Linked DNA regions of Homo sapiens. The protein of the gene in region 3 purifies or fractionates together with the protein of the main gene of each other region. This does not show direct contact. Each region holds a gene or a part of one and is shown on either strand. Other genes may lie near its edges.

What was found.
Region 1: the proteins of SGSH (region 3) and FBXO21 purify together in Homo sapiens (co-immunoprecipitation; 2 studies listed by BioGRID and IntAct, with this or other methods). This does not show direct contact.
Region 2: the proteins of SGSH (region 3) and NGLY1 purify together in Homo sapiens (co-immunoprecipitation; 2 studies listed by BioGRID and IntAct, with this or other methods). This does not show direct contact.

The regions. Positions count from the first base shown.
Region 1 is NC_000012.12:117,173,468-117,180,501, forward strand, and holds part of FBXO21 (F-box only protein 21), read right to left. Parts: intron 4,175-7,034; coding exon 4,053-4,174; intron 1,331-4,052; coding exon 1,184-1,330; intron 875-1,183; coding exon 738-874; intron 1-737. UniProt on the Homo sapiens protein: Substrate-recognition component of the SCF (SKP1-CUL1-F-box protein)-type E3 ubiquitin ligase complex.
Region 2 is NC_000003.12:25,759,441-25,766,474, forward strand, and holds part of NGLY1 (peptide-N(4)-(N-acetyl-beta-glucosaminyl)asparagine amidase), read right to left. Parts: intron 4,872-7,034; coding exon 4,626-4,871; intron 1-4,625. UniProt on the Homo sapiens protein: Specifically deglycosylates the denatured form of N-linked glycoproteins in the cytoplasm and assists their proteasome-mediated degradation. Cleaves the beta-aspartyl-glucosamine (GlcNAc) of the glycan and the amide side chain of Asn, converting Asn to Asp.
Region 3 is NC_000017.11:80,210,334-80,217,333, forward strand, and holds part of SGSH (N-sulphoglucosamine sulphohydrolase isoform 1 precursor), read right to left. Parts: intron 6,860-7,000; coding exon 6,699-6,859; intron 4,806-6,698; coding exon 4,700-4,805; intron 4,433-4,699; coding exon 4,282-4,432; intron 3,996-4,281; coding exon 3,839-3,995; intron 3,553-3,838; coding exon 3,471-3,552; intron 1,942-3,470; coding exon 1,738-1,941; exon of another isoform or gene 1,591-1,737; coding exon of another isoform or gene 1,536-1,590; intron 855-1,535; coding exon of another isoform or gene 715-854; exon of another isoform or gene 679-714; coding exon 119-678; 3' UTR 1-118. UniProt on the Homo sapiens protein: Catalyzes a step in lysosomal heparan sulfate degradation.

The sequences.
Region 1 (7,034 bases), on a different chromosome or scaffold from region 3:
GCAGACAGGGCAACAAACTAAATATGAAAATGGAACTAGGCAGAAAGCAAATAAAAAATAAATATAACAGATGCAAACTTGACACAGCTGGGCCACAGGTTCTCCCAAATGGCTAGAGGCCAGTGCAAAGAGGACCCTGATTAGTTTTACAGTTTAGTGTTCACAAGATACAAACTGACCAAACAGAGTCAGAGAAATATCTATTTTTAGTCAAAAATTTATCTCAAGGGTTTGCATATGGAGGATACTCCATGAGGAAACAGATAAACTCCACAACAATATCCTTACAGCAGAAGGAAAAATAAGTTTCATCGAGCACTCAGAGATGGAAGGCATAGTACTGACCTTCAAGAATGTACGGTCCATCAGAGAGAAGCTTAAAAAAATACATATAGGATGGGCACAGTGGCTCACACCTATAATCCCAGCGCTTTGGGAGGCCAAGGCAGGAGGATCACTTGAGGCCAGGAGTTTGAGACCAGGCTGGGCAACATAGCAAGACCTCATTTCTACAAAAAATAAAAAATTAGCCGGGTGTGGTGGCATGTAGTCCTAGCTACTCAGGAGGGTGCGGCGGCAAGATCGCCTGAGCCCAGGAGTTTGAGGTTGCGGTAAGCTATGATCGCGCCACTGCATTCCAGCCTGAGCAACAGAGCGAGACCCTGTCTCTAAAAACAGAAAAAAAAAGTTACTATACCTATATTACTATACCCATATATTACTGTACCTATATTTACCTGATGCATATATAAGTTGAGGGCATTATAGTAATCCATTCGATTCCCCTTGAACTTCAGTTGGTCGTAAAGGACATAGTTCATGGCATCCAGCACCTGGCTCTGGAGTTCTATTTCCATTATCATGGATGATTCACCTGAAACACAGAGATCTACTCTGGGACCCAAGCACAAAAAAGGTTGTGACAGGTGCCCCAAACAACTCACAACATGAAGACATTGGCAATGGCCTAACAATATTAATCAAGTGTTGCCAATCTAGGAAGCAGAAGGCAGTATGTATTTGAAGTGTTTTAGGTTCAACACTTCAACCAGGTAAACACGTGGTCACGTCATTTTATCACTTTTTCATGACATAATGGCAGCACACTAACAAATCTCTCAAATTAACCAATTCCTCTAGATTTTCTTTCATAAATACAGCTGGATCCAAAGCAATGCCACACCTGCCTTGAAGGCCAAGCTGGGGTGGCGACTGTTTATGCCCCGAAGGGTTTTGCAAACAAGCTCCACGATGCTGTCAATTTGGGCCTGGATGTCTTTGAGGCTGATGTCGGAGAGAGGATTGCAGTACTGGTCAATATATACAGCACCTGAAAATGAACAAGAATTACCGAATAAATTCTCACGTTACCCTTTTCTTATTAGTTTGCAATTTTACCCTGGACATCCTGGGACATGGCTCTTTACACCATCCCACTGGACAAGCTTCATGTTTTGGCCATGGACCTTGCTGCTAACACACTGAGAAGGAGCAACAAACATTTTCATAACAAAGTAGCTTTAACTTTAAAAAAAAAAATACATAAATCAAACTTCTCTCAGAAGTCATGGACTAAAAAACTGCGTGGTATATGGCGCAGTTTCATGTTCTATTACAAAGAGAAGTAAATGACATCAAGGAGATCTTTTCAAGCTACTTCTCTCTCCCTAGCTGTTATAGGTTCCAAATCCAACAACTCTGAAAACTTAATGGTATAAGGCAGTTCCTTTAAAAAAACAAAACAACAAAAAAAAACAACTTGAAAGCCCTCCATGACAGATGTGCCATTTCAACAAATTACACATCTCAAGGGTGAACAGTAAATGGATTCTGGAGCTAACCCCACTTTCCAATGAGATAAACAGTTATGCTCGGGGAACCTACAGCTGAAAAGCTGTGCAGAGCACACTGCAGACAGTCTCTTAAGAATCACTCCTCTTCACAGTCTTAGGTAATTTTGGAAGCAGAGACTGAAGGGCTAACAGCATCATTTGGGTAAGGACACCGTTATGTGGGAAGCTCTCGAGTCACCTTAAATTAAAGAGATCTCAGACCAGCTCAGAACCTGGACTCCCTTACCAATGCTCCAGAGCTCAAAGCAGTTGAACGGGTGTCAAGACACCTCGACCCCAGTCCCAGTGTTGCCACCAGCCAGGGACTGTCTCCTCGGCCTCCGAGGGCCCCAGCTTCCCTACCTGGAAGCTGAAGCAGTTTATGCTGCACATTTCTGAAGTCCGTTCCTTCCTAATGCTATGATTCCCAGACTTCTTCGATGGCATCAGCATTATTCCAGTCAGTCACCAAGGATCAGAAACTTGGAGAGCCAACTGTCATTCACTCAACTACTAAACAACTTCCAATGGCTTCTCAATGCTTATGACACTGATGTGGAAGTTCTTTGAAAATTATAACTTTGTATTTAGAAAATGAAAAAGGAGTATTTGTTTTCATACATAAGCTACAAAAAAATATACTATTCTTAACTGTGAAATAAACAGAAGATAGGATGCTTCTCAACTCCAGTATACAAATGAGGGGATTCTAGCAGTGAGAATTTATTTTAATCAACTGAAACAGATGTTTCATTTCCTTTTGGATGATACTAGGTTTTCATACACTTGATAAACATTTACACTAAGCATTGTGAGGTATACAGTGATCCTAACACAAGGACCACAACACGGGAAGCTTAGGGACTAGTTACAGAAACAAATGTATACACAGGAAACAGAAAAAATGCAAGACAGCTTACTATTAAATGCTACTGTAGCTCTGAGGTGAGTAAAATCTCCAAGTAGTCAGTGGAAATTTAATGGAAGTGAGGCTTGAGCTGAATTATGGAGGGGGAGTAGGATTTTCAAGAGGGATTATGAGAAGGAGGGATATCATGAATGAGGAAGTGAAGCCAGGTGTATTTGTGGGGCACCAGTCTAGACAATGGCCTGGCTGGAGCAAATGGGACATCCTGGAGAGTACGGAGCAAAGGTCTGGACCAGATTATGCAGGGCATTGAAAAGCAGGTAGAGGTTAAATATAAAAGGGAAATCAGTTGTCCACATTGCAGGTTTCACATGCAGTGGTGAAGGCTAGATTTCTAATGGGGCTGGCACTGGTATTTTGGCTGACTTGGAGGGAAGGGGGGGTAATGTTCATGAAAGCAAGTATTACTCAGAAAGTTGTTGCCAGGAGAGGTGGCCATAGACTGCATGAGACTAGTTACAGAAGCCAGCCAGGTGTGGTGGCACTTGAGCACGGGAGTTTGAATCTAGCATAGGTGACATAGCAAGACCCCGTCTCTAAAAATAAATACATTTTTTTTAAAAAAAGGAATAGTAACAGAATGGGAACATGACTATGAGATACACTGGAATGGAAAAAAAAATCAACAATCTGGTAAAACATCAGAAGTAGGGAATAAAAGTAAACGACCAGTCATATTTGTATTTCATAACCATAATTTATGGGAATGTTTGTGTAATATTGTAGGAATTCAAAATCATTTTAAAAAAAATGGAAGTCTCACTTTGTTCCTGTTCAACTTAATAAGAACAAAAAGATTCTCCACTCCCTTCATCTTGCCTGTCCACTCAACTTCTTCCTTCTCACCTTTCATTACGGACAAGCAGACTCACTGATGCCCAAGAACATTCTGTCCTCAATAAACTCCAACCTGAGAGGTTAAGGGATTTACTCAAGGTCACAGGGAGACAAAATTGGATACATTTACTTCTGATTTGGAAATGATCATTAAAGCTCGGAAAAACAGGAATTTACTTCATTAGCTAAAGTATCACTCTCACATTTTAAGCCAATGATGCATCTTTAAAAAACACTATTTCTTTAGTGGACTTTGATAAAATCTTAGCTCTAAATTTAATAGTTTGAACTACCTCATTGATCAGGCCCTATAATCCAACCTGCAGAAGCCCACGCAACATGATTTGCTTTTTCACTTCTTTACCACAAGGAACACAATTCCCTCTGCTGGTCTTAAAAAACTAATCAGTTACCTACAGAAATACTACTGTCCACATATATGGGAAAAGACCCACCTTCAAGATACGACTCATAGTCATCTGGCTGCTGAAGAAAGGCCTTAAGATTATTTAAGATCTTCTGTTGCCGCAGGTAGTAAAGAATTTTTTTTGCGTAGTATTTCCAGGTCAAAGCTTTTCTGGAAACAAAAAGTCAGTAAGAATTAAGATTTGAAAACTTTCAGTTATCTATTTTTCACATTACACTAACATACCATGTAGTTTGCTTAACAAGAAAAATATAATTGGTTCATTCTCTTATAATAATTATAATGGAAATAGCAGTCTTTGAATTGTAATATAATACTAAATTAGTTGTACTGAAATCTGAGGAACAGTTATCTGCCTGGCTTCAGACTTACTTGCCTGTATCTTTCATAAAAGGAAATGGAAGAGCAGCCTGAAAAAGGAATTGAGCTGGGGGAGGTTCAGAAGATGGGGAGGCATCTAGAACCTTTTGCTGGTCCCCCTGCTTGGGCCACTTGGGCCTGGGCACTCACTGCCATGGTGAGTTCCTCACGGTTTCACATATTATGAAAACTCCTATTTTCCAGACCAGAGTTCTCTCTTGAACTCTAGACCTTTGTATCAACTACTATCCATCTACTCCACATCCCACTCAGATAGCTGAGCACTTTCATCTTTCTTCCCCTCCCAGAGTCACCCTCATCTCTGATCAAGGCATCTCCATCATTCTAGTGAGGCATAAAACCTGCGAGTCATCCTGGATGCCTTGCTTTCTCTCATAAGCCATACTTAAGACCTGTCAGCCAATGCTATCGGTACTATCTTCAAATTACATCCAAAATGTGCACACTTCCCAATTACTCCCACACACCACCATCAGCATTCCTGTGTTGCAGCAACATCCTCCTACCTCAGCTTCCCGCTTCAGACCTGGCCCCTCCACAGTCCATCCTCAATACGGCAGCCAGAGCACTGCAGTAACACGTACGGTCACGCCACCCAATCCTCGCCTCCAAGTCTCCAGCGGTTTCCCACCTCGCTCCAAGAAAAAGCCCAAGTCCTAAGGAGGACTTAAAAGGTCTCTTGAACTCTCGCCCCATTACCTCTCTGACCCCAATTCCTGCCACTCCCCCTCAGTCCAGCCACCCAAGCATTCCAGCTGTTCCTTTACTGTCTGGCGGGTGCTCACCTTAGTGCCCTGTTCTTCTGCCTGGAACATTCTCTCCAGAGACTGCAGTCTGTTCTCACCTTCTCCTAGGTTTCAACTCAAATGTCCCCTTGAGTAAGGCCCCCTACATTATTTTAAATGGTACCCCCTCACCACTCCCCTGCCTTCTTCCCCGATTATATTTCTCTATAGCATGTTTCATTTTCTAATGTAACCAATTTCTTAGTGCCCATCTCGCCCACTACAGTATAAGCCCCATGAAGGCAGGGATTTTTTTTGTGTTGTTCACTGCTGTATCCCTAGTGCCTAGAATAGCATCTGGCACATAGTAGATGTTCCATAACACTTGTTGAGTGGATAAAATTCTTCACCACATATCCCAAATACATATGGGGATTATAAGAAGCAGGAGAGAGACAGTGATGAAACTTATCTGGCTGACATCATGAAGAAACAAACAACTTGCCAATCTTGAGAGAGGTCAATGAAAATCTGCAGAATGATCTATGTTTCATCTACTTTTTAACCTTTGAGTTGTAAAATATATCAATCTAGAAAATTGTGTGAAACAAACAAGTAGCTTAATGAATCATTACAAGGCACATTCCTGGATCTAACACTCTTGCCAAGAAAGAAAACTTTGCAAACGGCCAAGAAGCCCTCCGGGGCCCCCCGCAACAATAATCACAAACCACACCTCTATGGTCATCACTTTCTTGCTTTTCTCTTTAGTATTACCATGAAATATACATCCCTAAACAGGCGAGTCTGTTTTGATGCCTTCTAAATCTCTTAATCTACAGGATCCTCCTCCATCTTTTTTTTTTCCCTTGCATTTTATTTGTTGAAGAACCTGGGTTGTTTGACCTGCAGTTTCCCATCGTCTGAAATTTGCTGACTGTACCCACATGATGTAGTTTAACATGTTCTTCTGTCTTCTGATCTCCTGTAAATTGGATGTAGAGGCTACATGAGATACAGATTCCATTAATTTAGCAAGATAATTTCATAGAAGGTAGTGCATTCTCCCATCAGGAGGCAATAATGCCTGGGTGTTTCTTTTGTGATGTCAGCAGCACTGCTACTCAATGTCTTGATCTGTTCATTCATTTGAGGTTACGAAGTGGTGATATTAAAATTCAATCAACCCTTCTTAATTCATTAGCTGGGATACTTCTATAAGGAAAAACCTCCCCGTCTATTATTTGATCCCCCATGATACAGTACATGGAAAAGGCAGGATAAATGCTCATATCTTCTATTTACAATTTTTCAAAACAATGATATGGGCTTCTATTTATCCTTCAAAGGTGACCAATTAATTTTTTAGTATTATGGACTCAGAGAGACAAGCATATTCGATGCATTTCAATCCATTCCTGTTATTATCCACACTGATGCTCTAACTGTCACATCTTTGGCCACTGGAAGCCTCTTCATATTGGTTCCTCAATACTTCCGACATAAAGTAGTGTCAGTTTTCTTACTATCTGGTTAGGTTTCCAGGATGCACCACCAGGCTCATCTTTTAAAATCCTTGCATTGGACATACAATCAGTCTTTCTCCAAAAACCCTGGCTTCTTTTGTGGAAAATGTTGTATCAAGATGACAATCTGGAAACCAGGGAAGATCAATTCCACTAGGTTGGTTATTATTTCTAGATCTTTTCAGCAAACAGACGTAGGAAGCCTAGTGTTGATGTGCACGTGTGTGTACATGTACATATGCACATGCACTTACATATACCTACATGTATTTAAATATAAAATACCTTTTGAGTTCACACTGGCACTTCTAATTCAAAAATATATGTCTCTGACCTTCTTCTATCTTATATCTATGTCTTCTTTATTCCAGGAGAATT
Region 2 (7,034 bases), on a different chromosome or scaffold from region 3:
ATTCATCCGGAGTATTTTTATTTTCAATTTAATTCTTTTCAATCTGGAAATTACCTCATTCATTGTAGTTTTAATGGCACTCAAAATATTTTAAACAATAAAGTTTATATTCTTGCCTTATTTCTTTACATATTCATTGGCACAACTCTGAAAAAACTAAGTCATAAAAATAGAAAGTTGCTGATTACATGGTGATTACAGCAGCTGGGTAACCATGTACTAATGCTACATAAGGCAGCAGTTAATTGAGAGACTAAAGTTACTTAGAGTACAAATGGAAGTTTAAAATGTGAAATCTGTTGGTTTTAGATCAAAGAGATTTTTCCTTCACTAATCATACTTCCAATTATTTTGATTTCTGATATGAGATATATTTAAGACTTCATAAGAAAAAAGTACAATGTGTATAATTTTGTCAAATCGTGGTAATTAATCAATGGAAGTTAGATTAGCAAATTCACTTCTTTAGTTAAAAAAACACACACACACACACACACACACACAACAAATCAAGGCTTGAGCCTACTTGCCCTCTCTTTAATTTTATGCAACCCTTTATTTTGAGGCTTTAAAATTTAGAACCTGTTTTTAGACATAAAAGTTTTGTTATTTTAAATATGTTTTAATCAACTTGTGACTTCAATAAACTTATTTAAAGAAAAACTTTTCTATTTATAAAGGTAATACATGTTGCTTCAAAAAATATTTCAGAAAATACTCAATAGTATAAATAATATGAAAGCACCCATAATTTCATCACTCAGAGTACATTATGGTTAAGATGTTTGTGTATGGCCTTCCAAACCTTTAAAAAAATGAACATATATATATATGTATGTGTGTGTGTATGTTTCTAATAAGAAAAATCAAAATATTACACATATACAGACAACATATGTTGTTTAATTTTGGAATTCTCAGTTTACCTTTTTTCCATATAATAATGTTATTCATGTCAAAACAGATCACATCTTCATTTTTAACATACGCTAAGTATGCTGATATAAGGACACAATGTAATCCCCTATCAGAGGGCATGCAAGTATTAACTTTTAAGAGTGGTAGGTTCATGAAAAAGAAAGTGGATGTTTAAATCTTATGTTCAAATAGGTTTCTTCTCTTACAAAGCTAGCACACAGGCCGGGCACGGTGGCTCACGCCTGTAACCCAGCACTTTGGGAGGCCAAGGTGGGCGGATCACCTGAGGTTGGGAGTTCGAGACCAGCCTGACCAACATGGAGAAACCCCGTCTCTACTAAAAATACTAAAACTAGCCAGACGTGGTGGCACATGCCTGTAATCCCAGCTACTACGGAGGCTGAGGCAGGAGAATCACTTGAACCCAGGAGGCAGAAGTTGCGGTGAGCCGAGATCACGCCATTGCACTCCAGCCTGGGCAACAAGAGTGAAACTCTGTCTCAAAAAAAAAAAAAAAAAAAAAAAAAAAAAAAAAAAAAAAAAAAAAAAAAAAAAAAAAAAAGCTCGCACACAGATCTAGACTAAGACTAAGAGGTTGCCTTATTGTTGGTTTATGAGATAAAATTAGTTTTAAAATTAACTAGTTCGTTTTATTATTTATCATTATCTGATAATATATGACTTTTATAATTTCAATGAAATAATCACAAATTATGATAATTGGTTTAAATAAACACATACCCATATATAAACTGGCAGTAATTTCTAGAGTGATAAAGAGTTGATGAAAAGTTCCTAACAATTTCATATACATACTCAAAGTAGTCATGTGCTAAATAAAAGCATACATTTAGATTAGCTGAGTAAAAAGTACTAAATGTATATTTTAAGCATATTATACTTCAGAATCACATTTTCAACCGAGATAAAGTTGTGAAGCTGGAAACATAATGCTTCTAACATTCTGAGGTACCATGTCATTGAAAAATTGTCCTTGCTGTTTTGAATCTGCTTTTGGAAGGCAATGGGTATAAAAATAAAGGATTATCAGAAAGTTACTTCCATTAGGAACACTAAACACTTAGCATGTACAACCAGCAAGTTTGAAAATCAATTAAGTCATCAGGCAAATGCAAATTAAAACCAAAATGAACTACTACTTAACAACCACTAAAATGGGTATACTAAAAAAGACAGTAACAATGGTTGGTGAGGATACTAAGAAACGGGAAGCCTCACATATTTCTGATGATAAAGTAAAATGGTACAATTTTGAAAAACAGCTTGGTAATTTCTTAAAAACATAAATATAAACTTACCATACAACCCAGTGGTTCCACTCCTAGGAATCTACTCAAGAGAAATAAAAACATATGTCTACACAAAAATTTGTATGTGAATGTTCACAGCAGCATTATTCATAATAGGCAAACATGGGAAACAACCCAAATGTCCATCAACTGATGAATGGAAACAATATGTGGCATATCCTTAAAATGGAATATTATTCAACAATAAAAAGGAACAAAATACTGATATATCCTGCAATACGAAGAACTTCAAAAATGTTACACAAAGAGCTAGAAACAAAAGATTACATACTATAATTCTATTAACATAAAATGTCCAGAAAAAGTAGCAAGATTAACTTTCTAACAATCACCACCACTATCATCATTTATTGAGTATCAATATATTCCAGTATTTTGTATCTTAAAAGCTTACTGGCAAACGTCAACATCAGTGACTATCATCTTAACTTATACATCGACATTTTACTTGATATAGTTTTAACCAAAAAAAAAAAAGTTATAAGTTCACTAGGACTTATCTAGTTTATACACAGGTTAAATGCTTTAAAAAATATCTCTCTGGCTCCCTGACTTTGGTACATTTTAATTCTCAGTATCTCCACTCAAAATGGGCAAGGTAGAAGAAAACTGTCAAATTCTGTAGTATAGCAACTAATGATGAAAGCATAATTAACAAAATACTTTAAAGAAATACATATATTCCAGTGATCCACGAATAACCAAGAGTTGTCTATGAAAAACAAGATTCATTCTAATTTCTCTCAACTTCAACACAGAAGATATTTTGTGTGAAGGACTAGAGTAGTAAGAATTGATATACACTAGCCTACTAATAGCATACACCTTTGAGAAAATTTATTTTCTTCTACACTAGAATGTGTTTTGCCAACAGAATGACATTCTGTTTTTAGTGTAGTGTTTAGAGGCTTTCTGGTGACGGACAGGATTTTAAAGACCTGGAACTATATCTGAATTGTAAGATTAAGAACTTAAAAAAAGGGCTGGGTGTGGTGGTGCACATCTGTAATCCAGCACTTTGGGAGGCCAAGGCAGGTGGATCACTTGAGGTCAGGAGTTTTGAGACCAGCCTGGCACACATGGAGAAACCCCGTCTCTACTAAAAACACAAAAAATTAGCCAAGTGTGGTGGCAGGTGCCTATAATCCCAGCTACTCGGGAGGCGCAGGCTATAGAATCTCTTGAACCCAGGAGGTGGGGGTTGCAGTGAGCCAAGATCGTGCCATTGCATTCTAGCCTGGGCAACAAGAGTGAAACTCCGTCTCAAAAAGAAGAAAAAACAAAAATTAGCCAGGAGAGATGGTGCATGCCTTTATTTCCAGAAACTCAGGAGGCTGAGGCACGAGAATCACTTCAACCTGGGAGGCAGAGGTTGCAGTGAGCCAAGATTTTGCCACTGTACTACAGCCTGGACAGAATGAGACTCTGTCTCAAAAAAAGAAAAAAACAAAACAAAAGAAAAGAAGTTTAAACAAGATTAAGAAAATGTGAATGGCTTTCCTGAGCCAGGACACTAACAAAATACTACTTAGCCCAGGAAAGAGATATTTTGTAAAATAAAATGTTTGCAAGCTTTTTTGCAGATTGGTTAACTATGTGCATTTTAAACTATAATACTGCAATTAAAAAGATAAAGTAGGAAATCTTAAAAGATATATTCTAACACTGTAATTGGAAAACTCCTAAGAAAAGGTGTTAAAAACCAAGAAAGATGTTAAGTGAGCTTCTGTAACTGTACCAACCTTAACTGCAAAACTGATGAAGACCTAAGGTATTCAAAATGGAATGCACATGATCTCAGGGAGGGGCATAAAAATCCATTGAGGTGCTTGTTAGACTTACAGAAATATCACAAGAATTTTTCTGACAGTAAAAACTTAGGAGAAGAATATGTAAGGACCTTGGTCAAAAGAGATTTTTGTAAACAGGATAATTTCCTATCAAATGGAATCATTTCAGTTTATCAAGAATGCCTGTAAGTTTGACTTTAGTTCTTCACAAGTATATATGGTGTATATTAATAATAAAATTTCACTAATTTGCTAGCATCCACTATCATTAAATTAATGCATTCTTAATTACCTTAAACCTAAAGAAGCTTTTTTATTGAATTAAGGTATTGATAATGGTTGTGCTGTTGGAAATAACCCCCACAGTGAAAGGCAGCAGGTACAATTTAGATCAGAAGTATTAATGCAGTAGAGGAAATCTGACAATTTTTTAAAGAGCTGAAGAAATTTGGATGTTTTAGAGTTATAAGAACTAAGAACAAAATATGGGGCATAAATTCAGGAATAAATCATAACACATTCCAAAGCTTTTGCTGTTTCAACACTTTGAAAGAAACAGTTAAAGAAGGTTTAATTCTAACATTACCGTTGAAGCAGATGGTGGATCTGATGACTGCCCTTGACGGTTCCTTGTGTGCTGGTTTAACCCACTGGGATTTGAAGATGGTGTTGTAGGAAGCTGGGTACTGGCTGCAGGTTGCTGAGATGACTTTACTTTGTGGCTCTTATTTGAGCCATCCAGTCTGCTACTTCTCTCTATGGCAATCAGGTCACGAATTTTTTGCAGCTGCTCCACTGAAGCTTTTTTAGGAAAGATGAGATGTGTTTCTCCCTGGAATTTATAAAATTAAAAAAAATGTGAACCTTTGCTTTATGCAGTCATTCTTTTGTGCACACACACACAGAAATGTATAATGAAACCAATAATATAGAATGCATGTTTCTAAAATCATACTGTTTTCTTACCATTATGGTTCTTTTTAAATACAGCCTAAGGTAAATAATGCCTAAACATAAACCAGAAAATTAAAAAAAAAATTATCTCCTTTTTGGCATTTAATCCTTAGCCTATTTAATGTGGTTCAAAGGACTTTCAGGAAAAAATATTTGATCTTCTAGAAACAATAAGTCAGAAGGCCTCATAAGGGTTGCAAAAATGCATATTCCTATCCTCTCTGCAATAGTATATGATACTACTATTCTCTATGAAATTCCCTATGAAATAATAATGACAGTAGAGATACAGCCACACAAAAGAATCCAGGGTCACATAAAACCAACAAGAAGTTATCTAACAACCTTTGAATCTTGTTAATCTGAGTCTTTAAAGAATAGCTACATGATTAGAAGCCTGTGTATGGGGTCAACTAATTTTTCCACGATAACGAAAAGTACACCCTGATAGTCAATCCAAAACTATGGATGGTTAACAGTAATAGGAAGGTAATCCGAACAAAACAAAAGAAATAAAAATCATGTATTTCAGTAGTGACTCATTTAAAGAATACCTATAAATATGCTAAGAATGCTTTAAAATAAAATGCTACAACAAATTCTATAATGTAAAACAGTAAATTACTCAAAACAAGAAAAAAGGTGAAATGAAATGACAATGTATTTGATCAAATTTCCAGGTATTGAAAAGAAACAATGTTAAAAACAGTAATTTCTCCAACTGCAAACAAGATAAAAAGTTGCAGCTGGGCATGGTGGCTCACGCCTGTAATCCCAGCACTTTGGGAGGCTCACATGGGCAGATTACCTGAGGTCAGGGGTTCGAGACCAGCCTGGTCAACATGGCAAAACCCTGTCTCTACCAAAAATACAAAAATAAGCTGGGCATGGTGGCGGGTGCCTGTAATCCCAGCTACTTGGGAGGCTGAGGCAGGAGAATTGCTTGAACCTGGGAGGCAGAGGTGAGCTGAGATCGTGCCACTGCACTCCAGCCTAGGTGACAGAGCAGGACTCAGTCTCAAAAAAAAAAAAAAAAAAAAGTTGCAACAGTCTGTAGTACACAGACCTGCAGATCATGAGCATTTAAATTAAACTCCAAAATCGACAATATTACTGTATTTCCCTGGTGATGGCAGACCTACAGGAATCAACTGAACAAGACATTACTCAATGACATGAAAGTCAATTCCATCTGAATCCTTTTTAAAAAGCTGGATTAGACCAGCAAGCTCCACGTATGATTCATAATTGCTATAAAAAAGACAACTACAATGTATTGTCTTTGTGTGTTCTAAGTACTGTGCTAGGCATTTTTTTCTCTGAGGCAGGGTCTCCCTCTGTCACCCAGGCTGGAGTGCAGTGGAGTGATCAAAGCTATAACCTCAAACTCTTGGGCTCAAGCGATCTTCCATCCTCAGCCTCCCAGCAGCTAGGACTACAGGTGCATGCCACCACACCTGGATGATTTTTATTTTTTGGAGAGACAGGGGTCTCACTCTTTTGCCCAGGCTGGTCTCAAACTCCTAACCTCAAATGATCCTCCCACCTCAGCCTCCCAAAGCAAAATGCTGGGCGTTTTAAATACATCATCTCAAGTAATACAACTACCCTGAAAAGTAGGTATTAGATTAATACTTTTTTTTTTTTTGGAGACAGAGTTTTGCTCTTGTTGCCCAGTCTGGAGTGCAGTGGTGTGATCTCGGCTCACTGCAACCTCCACCTCCCAGGTTCAAGCAATTCTCCTGCCTCAGTCTCCCAAGTAGCTGGGATTACAGGCATGCGCCACCACACCTGGGTAATTTTTGTATTTTTTAGTAGAGACAGGATTTCACCACGTTGGTCAGGCTGGTCTCAAACTCCTGACTTCAGGTGATCCGCCCACCACAGCCTCCCAAAAAGCTGGGATTATAGGCGTGAGCCACCATTCCCGGCCAATACTCACATGAAAATACAAAGGCTCAGGGAAGTTAACCTGCTTGAAGCCACAGAACAACTGGCAGAGCAGGGATTCAGACTCCATGACCTTAATCGTTATGCTATA
Region 3 (7,000 bases):
GATGGGAGTGTGGACGGAAGGGCTGTTGCCACTACTCCCCAGGCTGGCCGGCCACACGGACACGTGTGGGATGTGTCTGGGACATGCCTGGGATGTGTGCACAGGCCTCCTGGGATGGTCACAGCTCATTGTGGAGGGGCTGGCACTGGGGAGAGAGCTTCTCCTCCAGGACGCCGTCGGGGGCGCACACCCAGGGGTCGTGGGTCTCCCACTGCCACTTGGCCAGCTGGTCCCGAAGCATCTCCAGAAGCTGAGCAAAGCGCGGGTCGGTGGCCAGGTTCTGGGTCTCGTGGGGGTCCCGGCTCCGGTCGTAGAGCTCCCAGCGCGCCCGGTAGTAGTAATGACGGAGGTCCTTGTACCAGCCCGTGGGCTGACCAGCTGTGGTGCGGTTCAGGAGGTCCTGGAAGGTGGGTGAGACGTAGAAGTCCTGGTCGATGGGAAAGGGCATCTTGAAGTTGAGGTTGTGCACGAGGCGGAAGTGCCGGTGCTGCACGGAGCGCATGGGGTAGGACATGGTGACCTCGTGGTGGCTCTGGCTGCCAAAGACGGTGGCCCAGAGGGGCTCGGCCTCCAGCGCCGGCAGGAGGGACCGGCCAGTGAGGTGGATGGTCTTCGAGCCAAAGATGGCGTAGCTGGGGTACGGGATCGAGAACCAATCCAAGATGGTGGGCGTGAGGTCTGGAAGGGACGCGGCATCTCAGAGCAGCAGAGCCCTCAGCACACAGGAGCTGCCCTCGGAAGGGCCGAACCTACGCCACTCTGGGCGGCTCCCTTCTCCAATCCAATCAGCAGCGGGAGGTGCCTTGTCGAGCCGACACCTCTCACCGCCACGTCATCTCTCTGGGCCTCAGTGCCTTGAATGGTATAACAAGAGGCCCTGATTCGGTGACATTTAGGATCCTTCTAAAATCCCATGGACTGGAAAAGAAGTCTCCTTTTTGGTAGCTCGTGTACTCCAGCCCCTGTGGTGGGTGTGGCCACAGTGCTCCTGGCTCATCATTTGGGGCCAGAGAGAGATGTGGGCCCCAAGAGAGATGTGGGCCGCGAGCTCGGAGGGAAAGGGAACCTGAGTTTCCTGCTGTCCCGGGCCCACCCCACCTGGAGGCTCTGCCAGGCAGTGGGCAGGACACACGAGCCTCTGCCCTGTGCCGAAGGGGTCACCCCGAGCCCCTCACAAAGTCTTCCTGCACCCGTGTCTTTGTCTGCACATCCATAACATGGGACTAGATGTCCTAGGTCTTTTTAGGAATGAGCAGGGTCATGAGGTGCTTTGGGTCCCCCAGGAAGGCAGGATGGGGTGCACGGATGCTCAGAGAGGGGTCCCCAGGCCCACAGTATCGGCATCACCTGGGAACTTGTCAGACATGCAAATTCTTGAGCCCGCCAAGATCTACTGAATCGGACACCCTGGGATTTGCAATTTGGATATTAACAAGCATCCCAGGTGATTCTGAAGCTCATCGGAGGTAGGCGGGGAAAAGGCAATGGTTTTGAAAGCAGCAGGATCCAGGCGAGAATCCTAGCTTAGTGCTTACCAGCTGTGCAATCCTGAGCAGCTTACTTCACCTCTCTGAGCCTCATTCTTTTCCTCTGTAGAGTGGGAGTGACAGTCCCTTCCTCACCCAGATGATATGAGAGCCACATTAGGTAATGGGTGTGGAGCAGCATCTGACAGGTCATGGCCCCGTCCCAGATCCACTCCCACACCTTTCCTGACGGAGACAGACAAAGGCATACCTAGGAGGCTCACGTAGGCCTCGCTGACTTGGCCCCAGCGTTTTGGGTGCTCCGGGGATGACACCAGTAAGGGTTCAGCAGTGCCCGGCCAGTACAGGTTGGTCCTGCCGCTGGGGAAGGGGATCCCGTTGTCGGACGTGAAGATCACCAGTGTGTCGTTCAGGACACCGGCGTCACGCAGCTCCTGGAGCACCAGTCCAACTCCTGTGGTGAGGGGCCGAGAAGCAGAGCTCAGCCGCAGACACGGAGGGAGGCAGCGGGTGGTGTGTGTAGACCCACCTGCTGCTGCATCCGGCCGCTGGGCTCCAGCGCTTTCCGGATTCGAAAGCACCCTGTAGTTCTTCCCAATGGCCCTGGCTCTTGCCCAGCTCTTGCCCAGCTCCGCCCAGCTCCCATTCCCTGAGCAGGCCTCGAATGGGCCTCCAGGGACTCCAGCCATCCCTTGGCACTTCTGTGTCACCCCCAGGCAGCTGCTCCCTGGTGCCCGCCGGCTTTTGAGTTCTCCGGAATCTCGTGTCTGTCCCATGGAGCAAATAGGGCAGGGGCCAGAGGACGAGGCTTCCTCTATACTCGCTCCTTCCCAGCTGGGGCCAGAGGACAAGGCTTCCTCTATACCCGCTCCTTCCCAGCTCACTAAGAATTAATGGCACCAATAGGGAAATGGCAAAGGTCCTGACCTCCTGTCGTCCCTGACCCCAAAAGACATGTGTGCTGGAATCTGTGAAGGGGTTCTTGTTTGGAAAGGGGAACTTCACGAATAAAGATCTTGGGACAAAATCATCCTGAAGTGCTCAGGTAGGCCCTAAACCCGACGGGGTCCTTATAAGAAGCGGAAACAGGCCGGGCGCGGTGCCTCACACCTGTAATCCCAGCACTTTGGGAGGCTGAGGTGGGCGGATCACGAGGTCAGGAGTTCAAGACCAGCCTGGCCAATGTGGTGAAACCCCGTCTCTACTAAAAATATAAAAATTAGCTGGGCATGGTGGCGTGCGGTGCGATTGCAGTCCTAGCTACTTTGGAGGCTGAGACAGAAAAATCGCTCGAACCTGGGAGGTGGTGGTTGTAGTGAGCCGAGATTGCGCCACTGCACTCCCGCGTGGGTGACAGAGCAAGACTCAGTCTCAAAAAAAAAAAAAAAGAAGAAGTGGAGACACAAAGAGGAGACACAGGAAAAAAGGCCATGTGAAGGCTTCAGCGGGGATGGGGGCGATTCTGCCGCCAGCCCAGGAACGCCCAGCACTGGCACAGCCCCCAGAAGTTGGAAGAGGAAAGGCAGGGTCTCCCCTAGGCCTTCAGGGGAGCATGGCCCTGCTGACACCTTGATTTCAAACTTCTGGCCTCCTGAACTGTGGGAGTACAAATTTTGGTTGCTGTAAGCCATCAACCACAAAAAACTCACAGACCTCAAGATCTCCATCTGCATATGCTAAGGAACTCCAAACCCCCAAATCTGACCCAGGTCCTGTGACTGGAAATATCTGAAGTCTTCACGCAACCTCTGGGGCACCCGAAGGCCCCAGCCCAGGAGCAGGTCCACATCAGGGCAGCCCCGGGGTTGGGTCCTGATGCCACCCACAGGCCCCTCCTCTCAATGTGGGCTCTGCCAGCTGCAGCACAGGGCCTGCCACACTGGGACCCTCACCCACATTATGCCGTGACCTAAGAGGGCGCTGGCCCAGGATGGGGGACCCCGGCCGTGGCACCCCCTCCAGTGCCCGGTTCTGCAAGCCCACCTTGGTCCATGCGGCCGACGGTGGTGTACTGAGCGGCCAGGTCGGCTCGGGCTGCCGGGGTGTTGGGGACGAAGTAAGGCACCTGGGGCAGGCGGTGGGGAGCCAGGCTTAGAACAGACAGACCGGGGGAGCGGTGTCCAGCCTTCTCCCCGGGGCCTCCTGCAAATGGGTTAGCCCAGAACAGCCTCACTCCGGACCACCCCGTCTCTCTACGGTTCTCTCTGTGGCCCCGAGGTTGGGAACCTGAATCCGATTTGGTCAGAGCCTCTTTCTTCATCATCTAGGGCCAGGGCTGCAAGCTCGTAGGAGGCCAGGGTCCCCGACCCAGGGCTGACGGGCGTCCTGAAACACAGGAGGGGCCGTCCTACCAGCACGTCCAGTGGGTCGTAGGCCTGGGGGGTCCAGTCTGGGATACGACCCATGCCGCTCTCTCCGTTGCCAAACTTCTCACAGAAGGTTCCGTACTGGGGCTGGGAGTGCCCACAGCGGTGGGGGTCGTGGAAGGCGACGTAGAGGAAGAAAGGCCTGCACGGGAGGAGGCTCATTGCCAAGGCTGCGGGGCCACTGCCACGTGGCACAGGAAGCCCCTCGGCTCTGCCTCCTCCTCTGTATCTGGAAGTCAACCTGTGACCCTCACTGCCTCAGTTTCCCCACGTCCCTTCTCCCTCTGACCAGGCTAACTCGAGTACCTGGAACCTTCTCCCCTGCCCCCATTCGAGCCACGTGGGGGCCCATGCATCCCGCCGGAAGACTCCGGGCTGTGCTCTGGTACCGGCCGCCAGGGGGAAGGGGCAGGGGCCCCGACTCATACCGGTCATCCTGAGTCTGCAGGAATTTCCGGACGAGCAGCTTAATTCTAGTGATGTTCCGCCCCACCTGGAGGACGGAGCCATTCTCCTCCGTGTACGCAAAGTCAAACGGGTACACGGTCTCCGGCCCCACGTGCTTCTTCCCGATGATGCCTGGGCGGGAAGAGAGGCCTGGCCAGAGTCCCTTCAGCCTCCCAACCCTTTCTGCTCCCTTCTCTGCCCCTCTCGGCCCTAAGCGCACTGTGGGTTCTCGTGGACACACAGCCCAGCCAGGAGACCCAGGCCCAGATCCTTTGGGACAAGAGCTAAGGGCAGGCCACGGGGGCTGAGCGTGCCTTGGTACAAGGTGCCGAACCTCCTGGGCTCTGGCCTGGCCTCTGTGCCTCACCCCACGCCCTGTCCTCGGCACGGGGTCCTCACCTGTGCGCACACCAGCTTGGCTGAGCAGCAGCGGCAGGCTCCGCACCTTGTCGAAGGAGTTGAAGTGGTGCACGTCCTGGTGCAGCCCGTACATCCCATTCTGATGCTGCCAGCAAAGGCGCATGAGGTCCGGGGCCCCCGGACAGCCAGAGCCCGCCTGCCGCACCTGTTCTCCCACGGCCCTCCCATCCCCAGGGGCCTTCTCGGGGCCCTGATTTAGACTTCGAGTGGCCAGCACCCAGAGACACTGGCTGTACCTCCCACTCCCTGCCCGATAGGCCCATGGGTCCCTCCCGTGAAAGGAGGACTTCGCCAGAAAGAAGGGGACCTGCAGGGCGTGCACCGACACGAGGGTGGCCTTGATGTTCTTTTTGCGTATCCGTACTTTTGAACTCTTCTGTTATGATCACACGTTACAGAGTGAAAAAGACAGGGTCAGGCCTTGTTTTATTACCTAGTTATTTTATATTGTAAAAGATGTGTACATTTTAAAAACTCAGACTGCCGGCCGGGCGTGGTGGCTCACGCCTGTAATCCCGGCACTTTGGGAGGCCAACGCAGGTGGATCACGAGGTCAGGAGATGGAGACCAGCCTGGCCAACATGGTGAAACCTCGTCTCTACTAAAAATACAAAAATTAGCTGGGCGTGGTGGCGGGCGCCTGTAGTCCCAGCTACTCGGGAGGCCGAGGTAGGAGAATGGCTTGAATCTGGGAGGTGGAGGTTGCAGTGAGCCGAGATCACACCACTGCACTCCAGCCTGGGCAACAGAGTGAGACTAAAAGAACAAGTGTCCTTAAACACCCATGTTCATAGCAGCTTTATTCACAACAGCCAAAGGGTAGCAGCAACCCAAGTGCCCACTGACGGATGAATATGGAGAAGCAAAATACGGGGCCCATCCATCCACTGGAATATGAGTCAGCCCTGAAGAGGAGGGAAGTTCTGACTCGTGCTACAGCATATGGTTAACCCTGAGGACATTGTGCTGAGTGAAGTAAGGACACAAAAGGGGGGCCGGGCTCGGTGGCTCACGCCTGTAATCCCAGCACTTTGGGAGGTCGAGGCGGGCAGATCACTTGAGGCCAGGAGTTCGAAACCAGCCTGACCAACATGATGAAACCCCATCTCTACTAAAAATACAAAAATTAGACAGGCGTGGTGGCGCGCACCTGTAATCCCAGCTACTCGGGAGGCTGAGGCAGGAGACTCGCTGGAACCGGGGAGGCAGAGGCTGCAGTGAGCCACGATCGCACCACAGCACTCCAGCCTGGGTGACAGAGTGAGACTCCAACTCAAAAAAAAAAAGGACTAGTCCTGTGTGATTCCACTCTTATGTGGCCCCTGGAGCAGTCAGATTCATAGAGACAGGGGATGGGGAGGGAGAATGTGGAGCTGGTGTTTCATGGGACAGAGCTTCTGTTTGGGTAGATGGAAAAGTTCTGGAGATGGATGGTGGTGATGGCTGCATAACACTGTGAATGCACTTAATGCCCCGGAACTGTGCGCTGAAAAATGGCTAAGATGGGAATGTTGATGTTTGTGCATTTTACCACAGTAAAATAGGAGCATGTGTGCCTTAACGGTGTCCGCTCCCTGCACCATGGCGTTCCTGGGACACTGTGGCCATGGCGGTTCACGCTGAGTGAGCCCACCAGGCCTCGCACTAAGTGTTTACATACAAAGCATTAGCCCCGCCAATCTCCATAACTAGAGTGGCATCTCATTACACCCACCATCTTACAGATGAGGAAACTGAGGCACAAGGAGGTAGGTGACTTGCTCAAGGCCACACACAGCAGTGCAGCCAGGGCTGGCGGGTGAGTCGGAGCCCCTAGTCTGCACTCACAGCCATAGGCTGTGCCTCCTCCTGGAGGTGGGAGGGAAAGTGGGCAACACCCCCCGGGATCCCAGGGATGGGAGACGTGGCAGAGGCCTGGGCCCCGGACGCAGCCTGTCTACTCCCTGCCCACCCCCTCCTCCCGCCCCTTGCACCTCACCTGGGGCAGGCCAGTGAGGAGGCTGGCGCGGCTGGGAGAGCAGCTGCTGACCGAGGTGAAGGCATTGCGAAAGAGGAGGCTGCGGCGGGCCAAGGCGTCCAGGTGCGGGGTGGCGATGGCGCTGTTGTTGTACGCGCCACTCTCAAAGCCTCCGTCATCCGCTGCGTGAGGTGGGAGACAGAGAGTGCACGGTCGGCTGCGGTCACGAGAAACAGCACTGGGAGTGAGGGAGGCTGGGACTGTGATGCCAGAAGGCGAGACACCCAGGTGGGCATGGTACTGGCTCAGTGTGAACACTCAGC